Linked DNA regions of Homo sapiens. The protein of the gene in region 1 purifies or fractionates together with the protein of each later gene. This does not show direct contact. Each region holds a gene or a part of one and is shown in the gene's direction. Other genes may lie near its edges.

The links. Proteins that work in one complex are often made in the same cells at the same time.
Region 2: the proteins of IARS2 (region 1) and ESPL1 purify together in Homo sapiens (affinity purification with mass spectrometry; 2 studies listed by BioGRID and IntAct, with this or other methods). This does not show direct contact.

The regions. Positions count from the first base shown.
Region 1 is NC_000001.11:220,100,546-220,104,196, forward strand, and holds part of IARS2 (isoleucine--tRNA ligase, mitochondrial precursor), read left to right. Parts: coding exon 1-104; intron 105-1,583; coding exon 1,584-1,732; intron 1,733-1,817; coding exon 1,818-1,867; intron 1,868-1,949; coding exon 1,950-2,059; intron 2,060-2,141; coding exon 2,142-2,232; intron 2,233-2,901; coding exon 2,902-3,017; intron 3,018-3,651.
Region 2 is NC_000012.12:53,278,263-53,281,913, forward strand, and holds part of ESPL1 (separin), read left to right. Parts: intron 1-1,469; coding exon 1,470-1,604; intron 1,605-3,244; coding exon 3,245-3,364; intron 3,365-3,651. UniProt on the Homo sapiens protein: Caspase-like protease, which plays a central role in the chromosome segregation by cleaving the SCC1/RAD21 subunit of the cohesin complex at the onset of anaphase. During most of the cell cycle, it is inactivated by different mechanisms.

The DNA.
Region 1 (3,651 bases):
TGTGCCCGGCTGGGATTGTCATGGGTTGCCCATTGAAATAAAAGTATTATCAGAACTTGGTAGAGAAGCTCAGAATCTTTCAGCTATGGAAATTAGAAAGAAAGGTAAATAATCTGTATTTCTGTTTTAAAATGATATTTGTAAACACTCAGGTCCTTGAAATAGTCAGAACTTTACCAAAGGAACCTTTTGTTTGGGTTTCGTTTGCTTATAATAAGATCTATTGGAAACGCCTTTCTGTCACAGAAAATTCAGATTTTATTTCATTGATTTTTGTAAGAACTTATGTTTGGATATTGAAGGAAAGACTTTGTGAGCATTTCTGATTGCATTCTCAGTTTCTTAATGTTCATATTTTAAAAAACTATTTTTTGGTAAATTCTTTTTTCTGCTTTCCTCAAGGGGGCTTGTTGACTGATTTTAGGTGTTAAGCCAAAATTCAATTCTAAAATACATATATTTTACATTAATCTTTTATTTGATCCTTTTTCTTCAGTCGACTGGGCCAAGGGAGGATTCTCTTTTTCTTATATGTTATACTATTGTACATTTGGATGTAACTGTGAAGATTTTTTTACTTCCTTGTGAAACCTATTATCATTGGCTTAGATTTGATATTCTGATTAATTTTTTGTGTATAATGAAATGAAAATTGTTATCTGACCTTTTCTTAAATTAAGAAACAATAAGGAATAATTTTTCCAGTTTATTTGTCCTAAATATGAGGTCATTGTATAAAGTCTGGAAAATACAGAAGACAGTAATAAAATTTTAACTTTTGCAATTCCAGTTAATTTTAGAATTTGTTGTAGGTATCTTCTGAACACTGTTGACCTTCAAATTATTTTTCTATTAAAAAATTTTTATAGGCTGGGCACAGTGGCTCATGCCTGTAATCCTAGCACTTTGGGAGGCTGAGGGAGGTGGATCGATCACCTAAGGTCAGGAGTTTGAGACCAGCCTGGCCAACATGGCAAAACCCCGTATCTACTAAAAATACCAAATAATTAGCCAGGTATGGTGGCTCACGCCTGTAGTCCCAGATACTTGGGAGGCTGAGGCACGAGAATTGCTTGAACCTGTGTGGCAGAGGTTACAGTGAGCTGAGATCCGCCACTGCATGCCAACCTGGGCAACAGAGCAAGACTCCATCTCAAAAAAAAAAAATTTTGTGCTCGGGCGCCGTGGCTCACGCCTGTAATCCCAGCACTTTGGGAGGCTGAGGCGGGTAGATCACGAGGTCAGGAGATCCAGACCATCCTGGCTGACACAGTGAAACCCCGTCTCTACTAAAACTACAAAAAAATTAGCCGGGCGTGGTGGCGGGCGCCTGTAGTCCCAGCTACTCAGGAGGCTGAGGCAGGAGAATGGCGTGAACCCGGGAGGCAGAGGCTTGCAGTGAGCCGAGATCATGCCACTCGCGCCACTGCACTCTAGCCTGGGTGACAGCGAGACTGTGTCTCAAAAAAAATTTGCATTCTAAACTGTCTGTAGCATTTGCATTTAGAGAGATACATGCTAAACCATGTTTAAGAATTCGAATTCATTGGTTTTTTAAAATCTTTTTTTCGTCTTTTTTTTAGCTAGATCATTTGCTAAAGCAGCCATTGAGAAACAGAAATCAGCATTTATTCGTTGGGGAATAATGGCAGATTGGAATAATTGCTACTATACATTTGATGGGAAGTATGAAGCCAAACAGTTGAGAACTTTTTACCAAATGTATGATAAGGTAAAGAAGTATTTTTTCTCTTTGAGTAGGTTTTAGTATGCGTTACAAGATTCTACTTTTAACATCATATTTTTGTCTTTTATAGGGCTTGGTTTATCGATCTTACAAACCTGTGTTTTGGTCTCCGTCATCTAGGTATATATGCATTTTTCGGTAATTAAAAGGGAGAAATTTGTGAGGCTTCCAAGTATTTATGTTTAATATTTTTAACCCTTAGGACTGCATTGGCTGAAGCAGAACTTGAATATAATCCTGAGCATGTCAGTCGTTCAATATATGTAAAATTTCCTCTCTTAAAGCCTTCTCCAAAATTGGCATCTCTTATAGGTAAGATTTATTCATAGCTTGAGTGTACCAAAGTTATAGAATTATCCCATTTGCTAACATATTTACAATTGTATTTTCACAGATGGTTCATCTCCTGTTAGTATTTTGGTCTGGACCACACAACCTTGGACGATTCCAGCCAATGAAGCTGTTTGCTATATGCCTGAATCAAAGTGGGTATATTATTGCATTTTTTGTTTTATACACAAATAGAATGTATTCCATTATTAACATTATTTTGAATTTATTTTATCCTGTTTATTATTGTAAAATTTAATGAATTATAACTTAGTTATTATGTTCATATAGATTTTATTAACCTTTAGGTGATCCTTTTTATGACCTTATCCAGCTTTTCGGGAAAATGAAATAGAAGTATAAGTTACAAAGTGTTTTGAAAATAGTACAGTTTGATCTTGAAGTCAGTTTTTTCTTTTTTCTTTTTTTTTTTGGAGACCGAGTTTTGCCTTTTGTTGCCCAGGCTGGAGTACAGTGGCATGATCTTGGCTCACCACAACCTCCACCTCCCGGGTTCAAGCAATTTTCCTGCCTCAGCCTCCCGAGTAGCTGGGATTATGGGATTACAGGCATGCGCCACCACGCCAGGCTAATTTTGTATTTTTAGTAGAGATGGGGTTTCTCTATGTTGGTGAGGCTGGTTGCAAACTCCCAACCTCAGGTGATCCACCTGCCTTGGCCTCCCAAAGTGCTGGGATTATAGACATGAGCCACCGCGCTGGCCTGAAGTCAGTTTTTTCTAAAATGATTATTTAAAAATTAAAATGATATCTGTGGCTTTTCTTGTTTCATTATTAGTAATTTCTCCTAAAATTTTATGTTAGGTATGCTGTTGTGAAATGTTCTAAGTCTGGAGACCTCTACGTACTGGCGGCAGATAAAGTAGCATCTGTTGCTTCTACTTTGGAAACAACATTTGAGACTATTTCAACACTTTCAGGTGAAGATTTTTAGATATCTGACAACATAGTCATCAAAGTATTGGGCTGACTTGAATTTACTACTTTGCTGAACTGCATATTTTGAATTGAAACAGATATGGCCTCTACCTTTCTAGAATACATTTTACATTGATTACACTAAAGGAGAATATACATTAAGCATGATAGGAGTATAGAAAAATATGAATATTGATAAATGTACAACAGGTAAAACTAATTTCTGGCAATATCCAGTAGTTACTTGGTAAAATTTTATGCAAAATTAATTTTTAAAATTGTTTTTATCTGTTTTAATAAAAGTAGCAAGAAAGGAAATGCATATACTTATTTTTCGATACATAATTTTAATAAAGGATTGAATAAGTTCTGAAAATTATTCAGAAAGCAGTTCTTCTATCAAAGGAATTTTATTTTATTTTATTTTTTAAAGAGACAGGGTCTCATGCTGTTGCCCACTGCTGGAATGCAGTGGTCCAGTCAGCTCATTGCAGCCTCAAACTCCCGGGCTCAAGCAATCCTCCTGCCCTGGCCACCCAAGTAGCTGGGACTATAGGCACATGCCACTGCACCCGGCTAATTTTGAAAAAATATTTTACAGAGATGAATTCTTGTTGTGTAGCCCAGACTGGTCTG
Region 2 (3,651 bases), on another chromosome or scaffold:
CTCAAATGTTAGCTTTAGTCTGGGCAACACGGCGAAACCCCGTCTCTACAAGAAATAAAAAAAATATAGCCCGGTGCGGTGGCATGTGCCTGTAATCCCAGCTACTCAGGTGGCTGAGGCAGGAGAATCCCTTGAGCCAGGAGGTAGAGGTTGCAGTGAGCCAAGATCGCGCCACTGCACTCCATCCTGGGGGACAGAGCAAGATGCTGTTTCACGCTATTTCATTAAAAAAAAAAAAGTTAGCTTTAATTATTAGATGATTTGTTACCTATCAGAAAAATACATAGATGCCTTTAGACACAATTTTACATTCTTACATTCTTATGTGTGCCTTCTTTTTTTTTTTCAAGATGGAGTCTCACTCTGTCGCCCAGGCTGGAGTGCAGTGGCGCAATCTGGGCTCACTGCAACTTCCGCCATCTGGGTTCAAGTGATTCTCCTGCCTCAGCCTCCTGAGTAGCTGGGACTACAGGCACGCAACCACGCCTGGCTACTTTTTTGTATTTTTAGTATAGACAGGGTTTCACCATATTGGCCAGGCCGGTCTCGATCTCCTCAGGTGATCCACCCGCCTCAGCCTCCCAAAGTGCTGGGATTACAGGCGTGAGCCACCGCACCCAGCTTTCCGCCCCGCCCCCCCGCCGAGATAGAGTCTTGCTCTGTTACCCAGGCTGGAGTGCAGTGGCGTGATCTCAGCTCACTGCAACCTCCACCTCCTGGGTTCAAGCGATTCTCCTGGCTCACTCAGCCTCCTGAGTAGCTGGGACTACAGGCGCATACCACCACACCCTGCTAATTTTGTATTATTGGTAGAGATGGGGTTTCACTATGTTGGCCAGGCTGATCTCGAACTCCTGATCTCAGGTGACCCGTCTGCCTCAGCCTTTCAAAGTGCTGGGGTTACAGGCATGAGCCACTGTGCCTGGCCTATAAGGCCATGTACATTCTTATTTCAGGGAGTTTCACAAAATTCCTGAAGCTCTACCCTAGACTCCACATTAGGAAACAAACAAACAAACAAAAAGCCTTTATACATGCTGTTAACTATGAGCTATTAAACCATATTTCTAGCAGGGGAAGCTACCTCAGCCCTAGATTTGAGACTTGGTTCTGCCACATACCTGTTATATGAACTTAGACAAGCAACTTAACCCATGTGAGTCTTAGCTTCCTGTACTGTAAAATTGGGATTAGACTTGTTATGAAGGTTAAATGCACTGATGCATGTAAGCCTGGGCACAGTGCCTGGCACATAGTAAGAACTCAGAAAATCCTGGCTATTGATGATGAATGGCATCTAGGCTTTAAAACAGTAGGGGTGGGGTGATGATTGCTTCATCTGGGTAACTACATTCCACCCAGGCCCTGAGGTCAAACTACAGTCCAAGGTCCCAAAGGGCTGGGGAGCAGAGGGTAGAAATAGAGGCTTGAGCAGGGGTGGAGTAAACTTGGCTGCTTCTGCTGACCAGCCCATGCAGGCTCTGGAGGTCCTCCTGCTGCTACGGATTGTCTCTGAGAGACTGAAGGACCACTCGAAGGCAGCTGGCTCCTCCTGCCACATCACCCAGCTCCTCCTGACCCTCGGCTGTCCCAGCTATGCCCAGGTGAGTGCCCAACCAGCCTAGTCTGGGGACTGCAGGGGGCCCGTAGCTTTAGAGGCCCACCTCTGAGAAGACAGGATATCAAAGGGGCAGCTTCTCGGCCTTTTACCACCACAACTGGCTGGAGAATTGTGGAGTGTGGAGCAGTTGGAGGCAGCTGTAAGAAGGGGAGTCATCTTTGTCCTTCCTGCAAAACCAGTTGTTCATTAAGTTTACAGACTGCTGCAGGAACCTACCGCCAGTCTTGTATTTCCTAACTGGTTCTGTTGCCCTAGTTGATGCTTCATTGCTCATGTAAAGCTATCACAGTGTCTCCTGGTTGGTCTCCTTGCCTCCAGTTTCTCCCTTTTCTACTTCGTCTTCTTAACGACCACTGGTAGGCACAGGTGTGATGTAATCTCTTTCCTGCTTAACCCTGTTCCCTTTTGCCCCAATAATACTTGCCAGCGCTTACGGCTGCAGTGTTTACCCCTGGATAACTTTGCCACAAAATATCTCACTCTTACTATTTTTGCATCACTCTAGTATATTGACTTTGGAAACAGAAGACATCATTCTGTTTATAGCATTCTGTTTTTAGTGGTGTCATTTCCATTTCCATTTCCATTTCCACTTCCACGTCACCCTCCCGAGTAACTGGGACTACAGGTACATGCCACCACACCTGGCTAATTTTTAAATGTTTTGTAGAGACAGAGTCTCACTATGTTGCCCAGGCTGGTCTTGAACTCCTGGGCTCAAGTGATCTCCCACCTCAGCCTCCCAAAGTACTGATAATACAGGCATGAGCCACCGTGCCCAGCTACTGCTTACTCTGTATATAGCTTTAATCTAAAAGTGGTTAACCAGGCTGAGCGCAGTGGCTCACACGTGTAATCCCAGCATTTTGGGAGGCTGAGGTGGGCAGATCACCTGAGGTCAGGAGTTGGAGACCAGCCTGACCAACATGGAGAAACCCCGTCTCTACTAAAAATACAAAATTAGCCAGGTATGGTGGCGCATGCCCGTAATCCCAGCTACCTGGGAGGCTGAGACAGGAGAGCACTTGATCCCGGGAGGCGGAGGTTGCGGTGAGCTGAGATCACACCATTGCACTCCAGCCTGGGCAACAAGAGCGAAACTCCGTCCTAAAAAAAAAAAAGTGGTTAACCAAGTGTTAAATGGACATTTTAGAGAGTGAATCAATAACTCCTATGCAGATTATAATATCTGAAATAATGTAATATTTATTGGACATGTTGAACATTTTGCTTGTAAATACTTTACTCCACTTTTTTTTTTTTTTTTTTTTTGAGACGGAGTCTCACTCTGTTGCCCAGGCTGGAGTGCAGTGGCGCGATCTCCATTCACTGCAACCTCTGCCTCTCGGGTTCAAGTGATTCTCATGCCTCAGCCTCCCGAGTAGCTGGGATTACAGGCGCGTGCCACCACACCTGGCTAATTTTTGTATTTTTAGTAGAGATGGGGGTGTCACCATGTTGGCCAGGCTGGTCTTGAACTCCTGACCTCAGGTGATCCGCCCACCTTGGCCTCCCAAAGTGCTGGGATTACAGGTGTGAGCCACATGGCCACCCTTATTTACTCCAGTTTTGTTTGAAGAGCCTGGCTGCCTTTCCTCATGTGCCCTCTGATTGCTTCCTTAGTTACACCTGGAAGAGGCAGCATCGAGCCTGAAGCATCTCGATCAGACTACTGACACATACCTGCTCCTTTCCCTGACCTGTGATCTGCTTCGAAGTCAACTCTACTGGACTCACCAGAAGGTATTTCTCACTTTCTTAAACTCCGAAGGCCCTGGGTATTAGAAAGAATTTAGGATTTTCTTGATATTTGCCTGGCTTTTGAGATTTCCCTGGAGCTAGGCAGTATGTTCCTGACCCTGAGAGGCAGGCATATTTCCTAGCCTTGCCCTCGCCAGCGATTTGCTCACCAGTCCTCCTCTGGTAGAGATACAGTCCTTTTCCTTCTTCAGGGGCAAGGGGGAAAGTCTGTCCTGTGACGAAAAGCTGGGACAATGGTGATCCTGGGAAGGCATGGGAGCTCTGGACTA